Regions from separate parts of the Homo sapiens genome. Here region 1 is reported to be linked to region 2. Evidence: microRNA targets listed by miRTarBase, many of them from high-throughput screens and not tested one by one. Region 2 holds a microRNA gene; the other region holds the end of a gene's coding sequence.

Region 1 (5,328 bases), not on the chromosome of region 2:
GGAGAGGGGCCGGGTTTCCACTCCTTACCCTTTCCTCCCTGCAGTGGTGGGCTAGAGAGGACTCGAACCTCCCCCAGGAAACGTCCTTCCACCTTCCCCTTCTGTCGAATGTCCCAGATGCAGCCGAAATCAAAGCCCTGCAGACCCCGCCGGGCGCCACCTGTCCCAGGTTTACCCGCAATGGCTCTGCCGGATCTCTGTGGTGACACGCGCCCGCGGAGCTGGGGTTTTCGGTCCTTGTGCCGCCCTGTTTCCCACGACCCCCCCCGCGCCCCTGTTCCCACCCCCCTGTTTCCACCCCCCTCACCCCGGGGACCTGGGAGTGCCTCGAGGGCGGAATAGAGTCCTAGACATCTTCCTAGAACGTCGACGCAATATCCTAGGTATTGAGATTGATCATCTTATTTAACTTTTAAAGCCAAAATGATTGATACACGAATGTTTACTATATAAACATTCACTGAGTTGCATCCTTAACTATTTGCATGTTTTACTGTAGGCAAAAAAAAAAAAAAGAGGTGCTACAAGCATACCCATTTTATAGAGGAAGAAACTGAGGTTCAGGGCACTTCTAACTTATTCAAAGTTTCCACTGCTGGTTGTGGTGCTGCTGAGAATAGAATAGACTCAGTCTGACTTCAGAGTTCATCCTCTTAACTCCTCAAGATCAGGCTTTGCAGGAAAAAGTACTAGCCATCTAAAACCTATCCCACTTCTTCCCTCAGTGGTGCCAACCCACCCTGAGCTTATTGGGTGGGGAGGGGTTACACACTCATCCAAGGGAACCCAGGAGGGTTGAACCTGAAGTGACCTCTGAAATCATATGGTTCACCCTTCTCTCTACCATAGATCTCAAAAACCACAGCCCAGAGGAACAACTTACTTGGCCTGTCCCAAGTCTCATGGGTCATTAGAAGGCCTGCCTGGATTTTGATTCCTCCTGACTCACAGGACAATTTAATGAAGCAGCAGTTTGTCCTGTCAGGGGGAACTTTTACCCTGGAGAGGGAGCCCAAGGAAGAGGTACCTGCGTTGGTCAAGGGTTTTCAACCTCTGATGGAGGAACCCCAGCAAGGAGCAGTAGGGAAATCCTCCAGTGAAGTGGTGGGAGCTATTTATACCTGGAGACTGCAGGCTCCGGAGCAGGGTAGGGAGCGGGCTGGTCTAGGCTGGCTTCAAGTATCTCAAGACACGCAAACTTGCGGAAGCCAATCCACAGAACCAGTTCTGTTTCCTCTGTGAGGATCACAAGCCACTTTTCCAGAACAAGAGGGAATGCAGAGTGAAGGAAGACCAACGCAGGGCAAGAGGAAGCCCAGCAAGGAAAGTGGGGGTGTGGTGCTGGGAGCACTGAGAGGCCAAGGCCCAGCAGGATAAGGGACTGCATTGGAGGCAAAGTAGTTGCTTACTTAGGAAACCCCCAGTGGAGCAAGGGCAGCTATTCCTAGAGACTTCAGTTCCAAGAGCGAAGGTGCTGGGGGAGTGAGCTCTCACAGGGTGCTTGCCCAGATCTTGCTGACTTTCCATTCCCTGCACCTAATGAATGTAGGGGAAGTCGAATTGGGTCCCAGACGCGGGTCCTGGGTTTCTTACACATCCTAGTGTTCCCCAGGCCCCAAATTTTGTGCCCTGGGGTCAAGGTCTTCACCAAGGTCTTAGCCTCCCTCCTATTCTAGGTATTGAGCTGTAGGACGAGGTGCAACATTGTGGGCAGGGATGTCCTTAGGCAGCATTAGGGGGTACAGAAGAGGTGGGACCTTCGGCTGGGTTGGAGATGGGTTGCCAAGTGTCCTGAACTAGGCCCAGGGAAGGCAAGATTCCAGTTCCACATTTCCCTCGAAGCTAGCAGCCAAGGCCACAGCTCAACAGCACCCAGGCAATTCAGGCAGCCATGAAGCACCAGGGAAGAGGTGCTGACAGAGCCCAGAGGGCATCCCACAACCCTCCTGGCCCCATGAGCTCCTACTGTGGTACCTGTCCCAGAGGGAAAAGATGCCAACCTGGCCCTCCACAACCTCCTGTGGAGAGAGAGAGACAAATAAATCTTTGCATGACACCATGTTATGATATTGGAAAGTACCTAAGACTCTGGTGGCACAAATGTGAGAGTGATTACCTCTACTTAGGTGGTTCAGGAAAGAAGCTTGGCCTTGAAGGAGAGGCAAAAGTTCACCAGAAAAATGGGGGTGGAAGGGCATTCCAGATGGACGGGAGGGCATGTGCTGAGGCATGGAGGCTGAGATAGCAAAGCACTGTTGGAATGACTTCGTTTTGTCATTCAGGCATTGACTTAAATGTAATCTCAACAGGCTTTCCCGACCGCCTACTTGAAAAGACCTCCGTTCCCAGCGTTTGGTTCTATTTCCTTTTTAGAATTCATCTTCTGTTTTTGCATTTGTTTATTGTCTCACCCTCCCTCCACCCACACCTTCACACCTGAAAATAAAATCCACCAATCTAGGGACACTTTTTTTTTCACCGTTCCCAGCAACTCAACAGTACAAGTGAATACATAGTAGGTGCTCAGTATACCTAGTTGAATGGATGAATGAATGAATGAAAGTCTGCAGCCGCAGGCTGTGAGAAGCAAGTAACAAGCCAAGAATTTCCTCTCCAGCCCTTGGCCTAAGCAATCCATGGAAAGGTAACGGCTCCAGAAGAGGGAGCGCGGTAGGGAAGGGGATTCGGGCATCACGGTGGTGGGAGGCTGTGTCCCAGTTCGGGGGCGACGTGAAAGAGGAGGGACCCGGCCGCGAGTTGCTGCGGGACCAGCAGTCTGGTGCACTGGCTCACGCTCGGCTCTGGGGTCTTTCTGCCGCCTGAGAGGCAAGGGGAGGGAAGGTCTTCGCTCCCCAAGTGCCGCTTCTCTAGCCTCCCGCTAGGCCCTTTCGGATGTGTCCAAGTCGCATCCTGGGCGGTCAGAGGGCTTCGGAGGGCTCCCTTGCCTGCCTGCCTCCCTCCCTCCCTTCCCTCCTTCTTTTTCTTCCTCCTCCTCGGGTCTCTACAGCTCCCCAGCCGGGCGGCCCCGCCACAGCCTAGCAGCCCCACCCCCTCCTGTAAGGGAGAAATTGCTAAACTTGTAGCAATAATGACCCAGCATTCAGGCCGCCGACTCCCGCTGAACGTCTCAGCGCCCCGGCCGGCCCGGCCTAATCAGCGCGCCCCTCCCTGCTGCCCGCCCAGCCCCCGTCCCCCTGCCGCCCCCTCCCCCAGAGCACAAAAAGTGGGGAACAAAACCCCCGCACATTTCTCCGTCCCTCTGTTGAGCAGACTGCTGCACAAAGCCCCCGCTCTGAGAAGCAATGGGGAGCTCGGGGGGGACGTCAATCCGACGCGCTGGGGTTTTTGTTCGCGCAGGGGACCTCGCCTTCCTACCACACCTTTTGTTCGGGACTCCAATAAAAAGCCATTCTTTCCGCACCTTCCCGGCCCGGAGCCGCCTTTCAGCGAGGCCCGGCCCCACAATGGCGCGGCGCTCTGAGGCCTCCCCATTCACCCGCCTTGGCACGCTCACAATCGGCCGTGTGGCAGCACAGGCCTCGCACAGGCATTCTCCGCAAGTGACAAGGAGCCGCATAAAGCCGCGGCCGCCGGGGGAGAAGGGAGGGCGGCCAAGGGGGAGAGCTCGGCCGCAGTGGGGCGCAGCGCAGCGCCCCCGGGCGCGTTGGTAGCCCTGGCTGCAGCCAGGGAAGGAGCCGCCTTCGCGCGGCCAACAGCTGGGACTGCGAGCGAGGCTTCCTTTTCCCTGGCGACCCTCGAGGTGGGGCAGAGTGCAAGACTTGACCGAACGCAGGTCTATACAGCTAGTCCAAGCATCTGGGTAAAACTTAGGGGGAACTGCAAAGCCAGGGACTTCAAATGGCCCTGAGCCTTCGACCTGTCCAGCCCTCAAGAGTAAACAGAAATTAATGAACAAAGCCCCGAAGAGATCAGACTTGCAGCCTGGGGCCTGGCTCATGGGAGACCAGGCCTGCGATCGCCCAGGGAGGATGGCTTTCCCCCTCGCACCTTTTCCTCCCCTTCCCGCCCTATTTAAAGGATTCCTCTCCACTCTTTGGGGCTAAACAAATTCTGTAGCCGGCCAACGATTTGAAAATATTGCACCTTGTTTATTGACTCCTGTAGTGTGTGGCAGCGGGTGTCTACACGGCGTGTGGTTATAGTTATATAGATAGATAGATAGATAACATGTGCTGAATACAGAATACGAAACAGAAAGGAAACCCGGTAACACCTCCGGTGGGCCACCAGGTCCTGAGTTTGTTCAGCCTCCCCCCACCCCCAACTTTTGATCTCATTCGGCTGGTTTTCCTCGAAGAGTCCTGCGTCCCCCGACAATCCGGAGATCTGGACCGAGGTATCTGCTGCGGAGGGGAGACAGCTGCGAAACGAAATCGACTGTGCTATGGCGCTCCAGGCCCGCAAAGGGGGCAGAGGATCGGTAGGGCCTGGAATTTCTCAAGCCACGACCCCCATTTTTCTCTCCTTCATGCTTTTAATTTGTTATGTCCTTGGGCTCCCCGCCAACGCTTCGCGGAGGCCGCGGAAAGGCAGAGGGAGAGAAGCCCTTCTCGCTTTGGAAGAACCAAGCGCGGCCAGGGTCCTAGCCTCCTGGTCTCCTCTCGCTGCCAGGGTCGGGGCCATCGTCCTCCCCGGCGCCCAGCCGGCGTTTCTGCCTCAGAGACAGTCCTGGCGACCGGACCCAGTCATCCTCCTCGCCCCTGAGTCCCCTTCCCCAGGCCTCGAGTGAGCTGCGATCCGAAGCCCTGAGGAGCTAGACGTACATATTTTTTTAACGAGGGGACCTGACCTTTAGGTCAGGCCCTTCTCGAGCTTCAGTCCCGCGGCGCCAGGCTGCGCTGGGGTGCCCGCCGCGTGACCCGCCCCGTCCCTACCAGGCCCGGATGCCCTGCAAGGTGCCCTGAGCGCACGCGGCCCCGGCTGCAGTACCCTGGTGCAACGGCTGTGCGCTGCCGCCGCTGCCGAAGCCTCCTAGGTTGCTCACGTTCACAAAGGGGCCGCCTCCGGCCGCGCTGCAGGCGGGCTGCATGGCAGTGGTCGCCGCGGAGGTCCCGCCGCCGCCGCCGCCGCCGCCCGCCGGGTACGCACAGCCATAGCTGCTGCTGTAGGCCGCCGCTGCTGCGGCGGCGGCGGCGGCGGCGGCGGCGGCCGCGGCCGAGTTCCCATAGCCGTAGGCGGGGAAGCTGTTGTAGGAGTAGGCGCTGGCGCCCACGCTGTAGGGCGCGCCGTAGGCCTGCGCGCTGGGCGTGACGCACGGCTTGCCGTCCCGCACCAGCACCGGGACAGCCACGCGGCGCGGCGGCGGCG
Region 2 (7,668 bases):
TCCAGGGCCTCTGACACGCGGCCCACCTGTGCTTCTGGGAAGGCCACCTTACCCCCTCTGGCTGAGGAGAAATCAAATACAGTTGAGAACGTTAATCCTGAGACGGGAGGACCCTGCCCGTGCAGGCAGCTGCTCTCCCCAGAGTCCGATACACTCCCCTCTCCCTGCCAAGATTGGGGCCAAGATGGCGTCCCGGCAGGCTGGCCGGCTGTGGGTTGACCAGCAGTTCCTGCTGTCACACACGTCACAGCCCTTCTTCCAGCTTCTGATTAAGTCTCTGGGACACACAGCCAGCGTCAGGGTAGAGCTTAGGAGGAAAGGGTCAAGTAAGTGTCAAAGCTGCCGTGCGTGGGGGATCACCTGAGCCCAAGAGTTTGAGACCAGCCTGGGCAACACAGTGAGACCCTGTCTTTATAGAAAACTAAACACTATCCGGGTGTGGTGGTGTGCACCTGTAGACCTAGCTACTCAGGAGGCTGACGTGGGAGGATGGCGTGAGCACCACAGCTGCATTCCAGCCTGGGAGACAGAGCCAAAAAAAAAAAAAGCACCAAAGAACATATCCTTTGGAGCTCAGGGAGGCCTGGGGGCAGCCCTAGGTGAGCGGGCTGGGGGGGGTGGGGGTGCAGTTCCAGCTTCTCCCCCGCGACGATGGGGAGCAGCAGAGGGCAGGGATGTGGGGGGCCTTTCCAGTCAGTGCTCTGACACCCGGGAGGGGCCTGCAGCTCTGAGGCCACAGGGGCTGAGCTCAGCGAGGCACGAGCACCTGGGATCGCACAGCAGACGCGCCAGCCCTTCCCTGGTTCCTCCCCACAGCCTTGGGGACAGAAGCTTCAAGGGCAGGGGCTGAGGGGGTGAGACAGAGAATTCTGGATCCCCTCTCCTTTGAGGCCTGGGGCAGAAGCCGCCGAGTCCCCCGTGTGGTGATAACGTTCGCCTGAACCACTTCACTCGGCACGAGGGTCCGTTTTCTCTGAAGGTGCTGGGGTCGTGGGAGGGTTGAAGCATTGCGGGCCCTGCACCCTGGAGACCCTGCCATCCTGTGGTGGCTCAGGCCTGCCCCGTAGGCAGAACGGTCACAGGACACACGGGGCCAGTGTGGGGTGCGGACCAGAGCCCAGCCCTAAGCCTGGTCCAGCCCGCAAGTCAACAATGGCTTTTACATTTTTAAATGGTTGGAAAAAAATCAAAAAAAAAAACAATACTCTGTGAGAGGTGGGAGTTCCATGAAATTCAGGCCTCGGGGTCAGCAGGGCACAGCCTGGCTCACTCGCCTGCAGGCGCTTCTCCACAGGGACCACCCTGTACTCACACCTGCCCTCGAAGGGGCACCTGGCGGCCACGCCGGAGAGCGCCGCGCAGTGTGGACGGGGCCACGGGAGTCGTGGCGGATCTCCTGGTATCCACGTAAGACAGGTGGAAAGGAACAGACAAAACAAGCCTTGGCGACGTGCTCTGTGTGATCCGAGGTATCTGAGACATCGCTGCGTCCGTGTGAAGCGAACGTAAAACATGACGGAGACATCCAGGACCCGTTCTCCAGGCCGGGTCTCTGGACGTGCCACACTACAGGCCCTGCAGCCACCAGTGCTGGCGGCCTCCACAAGGGGCAGCGCTCAAACATGCAGGACGCAGGCGAGGTCCACGGGGTCTCGAATGCCACACGGAAGCAAGGCCGGGAGCCCAGCACGCACGGAGCAGGCTCGCTAGCAGGGAGCCCACGCATCAACCCAGGGCCTCTCGCGTGGCTACGCCAGACGCCGGAACCACCCAAACGGCCCCTGCGTTCCCCAGCCCAGGCCACGCAGGAGTCCCTCACGGGAGACGGGTTGGGCATTTCCGACACTCCCCTTCTGTAGCCAAACCCTGAGCGGGTCAGGGCGGGGCAGGGCTTGGGTGGGAGCGGCGACTAGCGGAGGTGCCACGGGACAGAAGCTGCTTGCACTGGGCCCTGAGCTGGTTTGGCTCTGACAGGAGCCCTGCCCGTTCTGTGTGAGGACTGCACACCTGCCAGGGCCAACCTCAGCTCCTTCGCCACTCACCCACCCACGCACTCACCCACGTGGCACCTGGGGTCACGCGTGCCGCTAGAAACACAGGCTCCTACCAGGCCCCGCCTGCTCCTCACTGATGCCTTTAGGCCCAAGGCAGAAGTGGTGCCCAGCTGCACCCAGGGCAGGAAGCGAGCTGCTCACCAGCCTCCTGCTCCCCTGCGCTCACTCAGAAAACCTTTCTTGAGCTGGAGCCAGTCTCAGGCAACTGACCCTGTGGGCCCCATCTGGACAGGAGGGAGGCCTGTCCTAGGAGAGCAGGGACAGCACAGTCCCCTCCCGTGGGTGCTCGGAAGAGAAGAGAGGACCCTGCAGAGAAAAGCAAACGTCCCTGTCACAGAGGCTGGACAGCTGGCTCTGTTAAGCCCTCTCCGGGGTTTTTCCAGCACACGCCAGGGGATCTCCAGAGATGGTATCGCTGAACCGCCCCGATCCGCTGCCAGAGGAGTCAAGAGCCCCGTGAGGGGTGCCGGGGGCCCTGCCCTGGCTGGCGAGGCCCACTAAGGAGCAAGAGCTCCCGGGACACAGCTGCCAGCCACGTGCCAACCTGAGGGTCCCATCGCAAGGGTGACTGTGGGAAACTGGCACCGATGCTCTTCCCGAAATCCACCCTGCTGGCCTTCCCGAGTGCAGCTGTGGGTCCTGGGTCCCCCTGTGTTCCGTCCACTCATGATGGACAGATGCTAGTACAGGATGAGCAGCTACGGAAAAGGCTCCCAGGCCAGGTGCAGTGGCTCACGCCTGTAATCCCAGCACTGTGGGAGGCCGAGGTGGGTGGATCACGAGGTCAGGAGTTCAAGACTAGCCTGCGCAAGATGGAGAAACCCTGTTTCTACTAAAAACACACAAAAAATTAGCTGGGCGTGGTGGCGGGCGCCTGTAATCCCAGCTACTTGGGAGGCTGAGGCAGGAGAATGGCCTGAATCCGGGAGGCGGAGGTTGCAGTGAGCCGAGACCGCGCCACTGCACTCCAGCCGGGGCGACAGAGCGAGACTCCGTCTCAAAAAAAAAAAAAATAGGCTCCCAGCCCGCGTTCCCCTAGAGGGAGGGAACTGCATTTAGGAGGAAGACTCCGATGGGAGGGCCCCAGGAAAGAGGAGCAAGAAGTGGTGGGAAGGAGGGAGGGCAGCACCAGCAGCCACCCCCAGGGACAGCGCCCAGCCAGGGCTGACTGCATCTCGGCCGTGGGTGCTGGCTCCGGCCAGACCTCGGCAGGGGGGTTATCATGTCCAGGGCCACTGAGGACAGCAGGGACAGGGCCTGCTGCGGCCAGCCAGAGGCTCTTGGGAGGAACGCTCACCTGCCACTCCCAGGTCCGGCCCACCTCAGGGCCTGGGCACACGTGAATCACCCAGTGCAGTGGCCCCGAGGACGCAGGTCAGGTCAGTCCGTGGTTCCCATCCTGGCTCCCTGTCTGAATAACCGGGGGGGGGGGGGGGCGTGCAGGGGCACTGTCACCAAGGAGTGTGCCCAGGCCAGGCCGAGGGACAGCAGGGTGAGGCCCCCGCAGAGCATGCCGAACTCTGACCCCTGACCCCAGGGACATGCCCTGGGCCGCTGCTGCTCCTGTAGGGCCTGCCGCCGGCCAAGCATCTGTGCTGCTCCCGTGAGCTGCATGTGCCCCCCGGGCCTCTGCTGTGGGCCAGGCTGTTTCAGGTGCTCGCGAATGGGAACCAGCAGGAGCCGTGACCACAGGGCTGACTCTCAGGGCGGCGCCTCAAGAGTGGCCGTGACTCATGACTGCCACAGAGCCAGGCTGCAGCCACGCCCGCCTCTGGGCTCCCTGGAGGGGCAGGGTGCGGAGGGCCCCGGGCTGTGTGGATCCATGCCTGACCCCCACAAGTCCAACTGTGCAGCTCCCCGCCCTCCCTGGGAGCCGATGCCCTAGTTTTAAACGGGGCGGTGGCCTAGATCCAGCCTCAGAGAATTGCAGAGGTGAGGCCGCCACTGCCCTGTGGGGACAAGTGGTTAATGAGCAGGGCCAACTGGCCGGTCCCTGTCCTGTATGCCACACACACACCCCGTGAGGGCAGCAAGGAGCATCCAGCCAGGGGACGTGCACGAGAAGGGCCAGGATGATCACACTGCCCGGGGCTCAGCACAGGGCTGAGTCCCGGAGGTGACCATTGCCGCCCCGCTCCATCTGCGGCCACTGAGGTCTGCTGGGGGTCTCTGGTGCTGGCCTTGACAGCCCACCCGTGGCAGGACAGGGTCTCGAGGTGCCTCTCGGTAGGTGGTGGGCTCAGTGGGGGTGACCCGTGGGGACGGAACGCATGCTCCTGAGGCTCCAGTGGATGCAGGCAAAGGCACCTCCCGGGGTCAGCGTCCCTACCTGGGGAGCTGGGAGCCCACATGGGAGCAGGGCTGGCACAGCGACCCCCAGCCTTGCGCGGGCGGCACCCACAGCTGTGTCCACTCCGCATACACTCCTCACTGTCTCGCTAACTAATCATGTACACGGCTGTACCCCCGAGCCCTCCCCTGCCCCGCAGGTGACACAGGCGTGTCCCACTCACACAGCACCTGCTCCTGGGCCCTACATCTCCGTCAATCTTTCACAGAGCCATCTTGCCACCATGGGAACCACAGCGACCCCAACAAGGATGCCCCGGTGTCACCCCTGCCCGAGCTGGGGGTGTGGGGGGCAGCAGATGGAAAGCGGGGGCCCCTGTGTCCAGGCAGCTGGTGGCCTGGCCTTGCCCCACGGCAACCCCACTGCGCCCTAAAACTGCACCCACCAGACCAGAGGCTGCTGGTCCAGGCAGGAAACAAGAGCCAGCCACTACCGGGACGAAGCTCAGTCGGTGCCCACAACCTGAAGACAGGCAACTCTGCCTTTGTCCCCACTGACGCTAAGGCCCCTGTGGAGGAGATGACCCCAAGGACAGGAAGCTCCTGCATGAGTCGGGTGGGAGGGCTGAGGACAGGGCTTCCCATCGTCCCTACAAGAAACAAGGCCAGGGCCCCGCCCTGGGGGAGGACGTGGACTCCGACCGCCCGCCCCAAATGACAACTGGCAGGACAGCATTCTCCAGAAACAGGTGCAGGCCGCTCCCCAGGGACCAGGCACCCTCCTGGCTGAGGATAGCGGTGGGGGCCGTGCACAGGCTCCTCACCAGCCCCAGCCCCAGCGCTGCCGTGGGGATGGGGAGCTCCATCTGGGGGCCGGGGCCACAGCACAGGGGAGGTCCCCAAAGGGACAAACACCCCTGTCGGGACCCCGGGCCGCCCTCACCGTCGCCTCCCACGACAGGACCACGGCCCAAACGGCTGGGAGAACGAGGCTCTTCAGGGCAGGCAGGGCTGCCGGCCTCCAGGGGTTCTGTGAATCAAGGGCTCCGAGAGGCCCCCCAGCCGTGGGCACTCCAACCCTGCTGCTCCACAAACAGTTCTGCAGCGCAAGCAAACCCATAAACGAGCCGCAGGGCTTGGGAACAAACTCACCTGAAGCTGCAGCAAGCTCCCAGGCCCTCTCTGTGCCGCGTCTGGGCTGCTGCCTAGAAAGGGAGGCATTTAATCAGGCACCTCAGCTTCCACCAGGAGGACTCTGACCCTGGAACACAGAGCCCCGCCTCCAGCCCTCTCTGCAGGAGCCAGAGTCCCGGGAAATCAGCCCCGGGAGACCCTTCGCCTTAGAAGCTGTCCGAGCTTCTGTCCTTGGGTGTCTGTCCGAGCGCCAAAGGCAGCCCGGGGAGCAGCAGGGGCTCAGCAGGCTCCTCACTACCCTGGTTTAAGGCCCTTGACCTGTCCAGTGCGGTCAACCTCCGGCCAGCCAGGACCGCAGACAGGGCCATTCAAGATCCTGTCCGGACCTCCCACGGCCCGACCCTGCTACAAGGAGCAGGCCGTGGGCAAGAGTCCATGAGCGGGGCTGCAGAGCAGCACCAGCCAGGGAGGGCGGCCGAGCTTCCCAGGCACTGCCAGGGAAAGGTGCCCAGCTTGGGCAGGCACAGGCACACAGCCAGGTGGCCACCTAGACTCCCCCGGACCCCAGCCCGAGTGCCACCCGGCCACTACAGCTGTCAGCAGGGCGGCCACTGCTTCGAGCCAGGCGGCTTTGCTTCTCTAAGGTCATGCTCTCCATGGCGGACCCACTGCGGTGGGCAGGATGCTCACGCTTCCCGCCCTGTCCTTCCTGGGCCCTGTGTAGGGCCCACCATGGACTCCTCACTCAGCCATCACCCTCTTTTTTGTTGGTTTTAAATTTTTTATTTTATTTTTTGAGATAGAGCCTCGCTCTGTCACCCAGGCTGGGGTGCAGTGGTGCAATCTCAGCTCACTGCAGCCTCCGCCTCCCAGGTTCAAGCTATTCTCCTGCCTCAGCCTCCCAAGTAGCTCGGATTACAGGCGCCCGCCACCGTGCCCAGCTAATTTTTGTATTTTTAGTAAAGACGAGGTTTCACCATGTTGGTCAGGCTGGTCTCGAACTCCAGACCTCAGGTGATCCACCCGCCTCGGCCTCCCCCAGTGCTGGGATTCCAGGCATGAGCCACCATGCCCGGCCCCTCACCCTCTTTTGTGATCAGCATGAGGATGGTGTGCAGGTGTGTCCAGTGGCACAGGCATCACCTGTTTTTTTTTTTTTTTTCTCTGACAGAGTCTCGCTCTGTTGCCCAGGCTGGAGTGCAGTGGTGTGATCTCGGCTCACTGCAAGCTCCACCTCCTGGGTTCACGCCATTCTCCTGCCTCAGCCTCCCGAGTAGCTGGGACTACAGGCGCCTGCCACCAGGCCCGGCTAATTTTTTTGTATTTTTAGCAGAGATGGAGTTTCACCGTGTTAGCCAGGATGGTCTCAATCTCCTGACCTCAGGTGATCCACCCGCCTTGACCTCCCAAAGTGCTGGGATTACAGGCGTGAGCCACAGCGGCTGGCTTTTTTTTTTTTTTTGAGACAGGGTATCACTCTGTCACCTAGGCTGGAGTGCAGTGGTGCCATCTCGACTCACTGCAACCTCTGCCTCCCGGGTTCAAGCAATTCTAGTGTCTCAGCCTCCCAAACATCTGGGATTACAGGCACACACCACCACGCCCAGCTAATTTTTGTATTTTTAGTAGAGATGGGGGTTTCGTCACGTTGGCCATGCTGGTCTCTACCTCCTGACCTCATGTGATTCACCCACCTTGGCCTTCCAAAGTGCTAGGATTACACGCATGAGCCACTGAGCCCAACCGAATTCTACTTTTTTTTCTTTTTTTTTTTTTTGAGACGGAGTATAGCTCTGTCGCCTAGGCTGGAGTGCAGTGGTGCCATCCCGGCTAACTGCAACCTCCGCCTCCCAGGTTCAAGCAATTCTACAGTCTCAGCCTCCTGAGTATCTGGGATTACAGGCACACACCACCACACCCAGCTAATTTTTTTATTTTTAGTAGAGATGGGGTTTCGCCATTTTGGTCAGGCTGGTCTCGAACTCCTGACCTCAGGCAACCCACCTGCCTCGGCCTCTGAAAGGGCTGGGATTACAGGTGTCAGCCACCGCACCCAGCCCCGACTTCTATTTTTAACAGGAAAAAAGGACCAGACAAGCACTCGTGGTTTTTGGCACTTCTCTACTTCTCTGCTTGCCATGTGGTGGCAGAAGCAGCCCTGGTCTGGGCAGCCCGGTGACCTCACTGGTGG

What was found. The annotated mature microRNA hsa-miR-5587-3p reads GCCCCGGGCAGUGUGAUCAUC and lies in region 2 at 4,126-4,146, opposite strand. An mRNA with a match to its seed (bases 2 to 7 or 8) in the 3' UTR can be bound and repressed. Matches are read on the target gene's strand: a 7mer-m8 pairs with bases 2 to 8, a 7mer-A1 pairs with bases 2 to 7 and ends in A, and an 8mer does both.
Region 1: miRTarBase lists NKX2-3 as a target of hsa-miR-5587-3p. Seed matches in the 3' UTR shown: 7mer-A1 at 4,650-4,656.

Annotation. Positions count from the first base shown.
Region 1 is chr10:99,535,285-99,540,612 of GRCh38, reverse strand. It overlaps NKX2-3 (NK2 homeobox 3), which reads right to left. Exons shown (of 2, transcript NM_145285.3): 2 at 4,089-5,328. The coding sequence ends at 4,892. Among named protein-coding and RNA genes, the nearest start is that of NKX2-3, 5.0 kb to the right of the region's middle. RefSeq lists an enhancer at 1-461 and silencers at 3,504-3,583, 5,159-5,308.
Region 2 is chr16:531,826-539,493 of GRCh38, reverse strand. It overlaps MIR5587 (microRNA 5587), which reads right to left and starts at 4,178; the gene lies at 4,126-4,178. CAPN15 (calpain 15) reads right to left here. Exons shown (of 14, transcript NM_005632.3): 2 at 5,496-5,548; 3 at 3,352-3,465.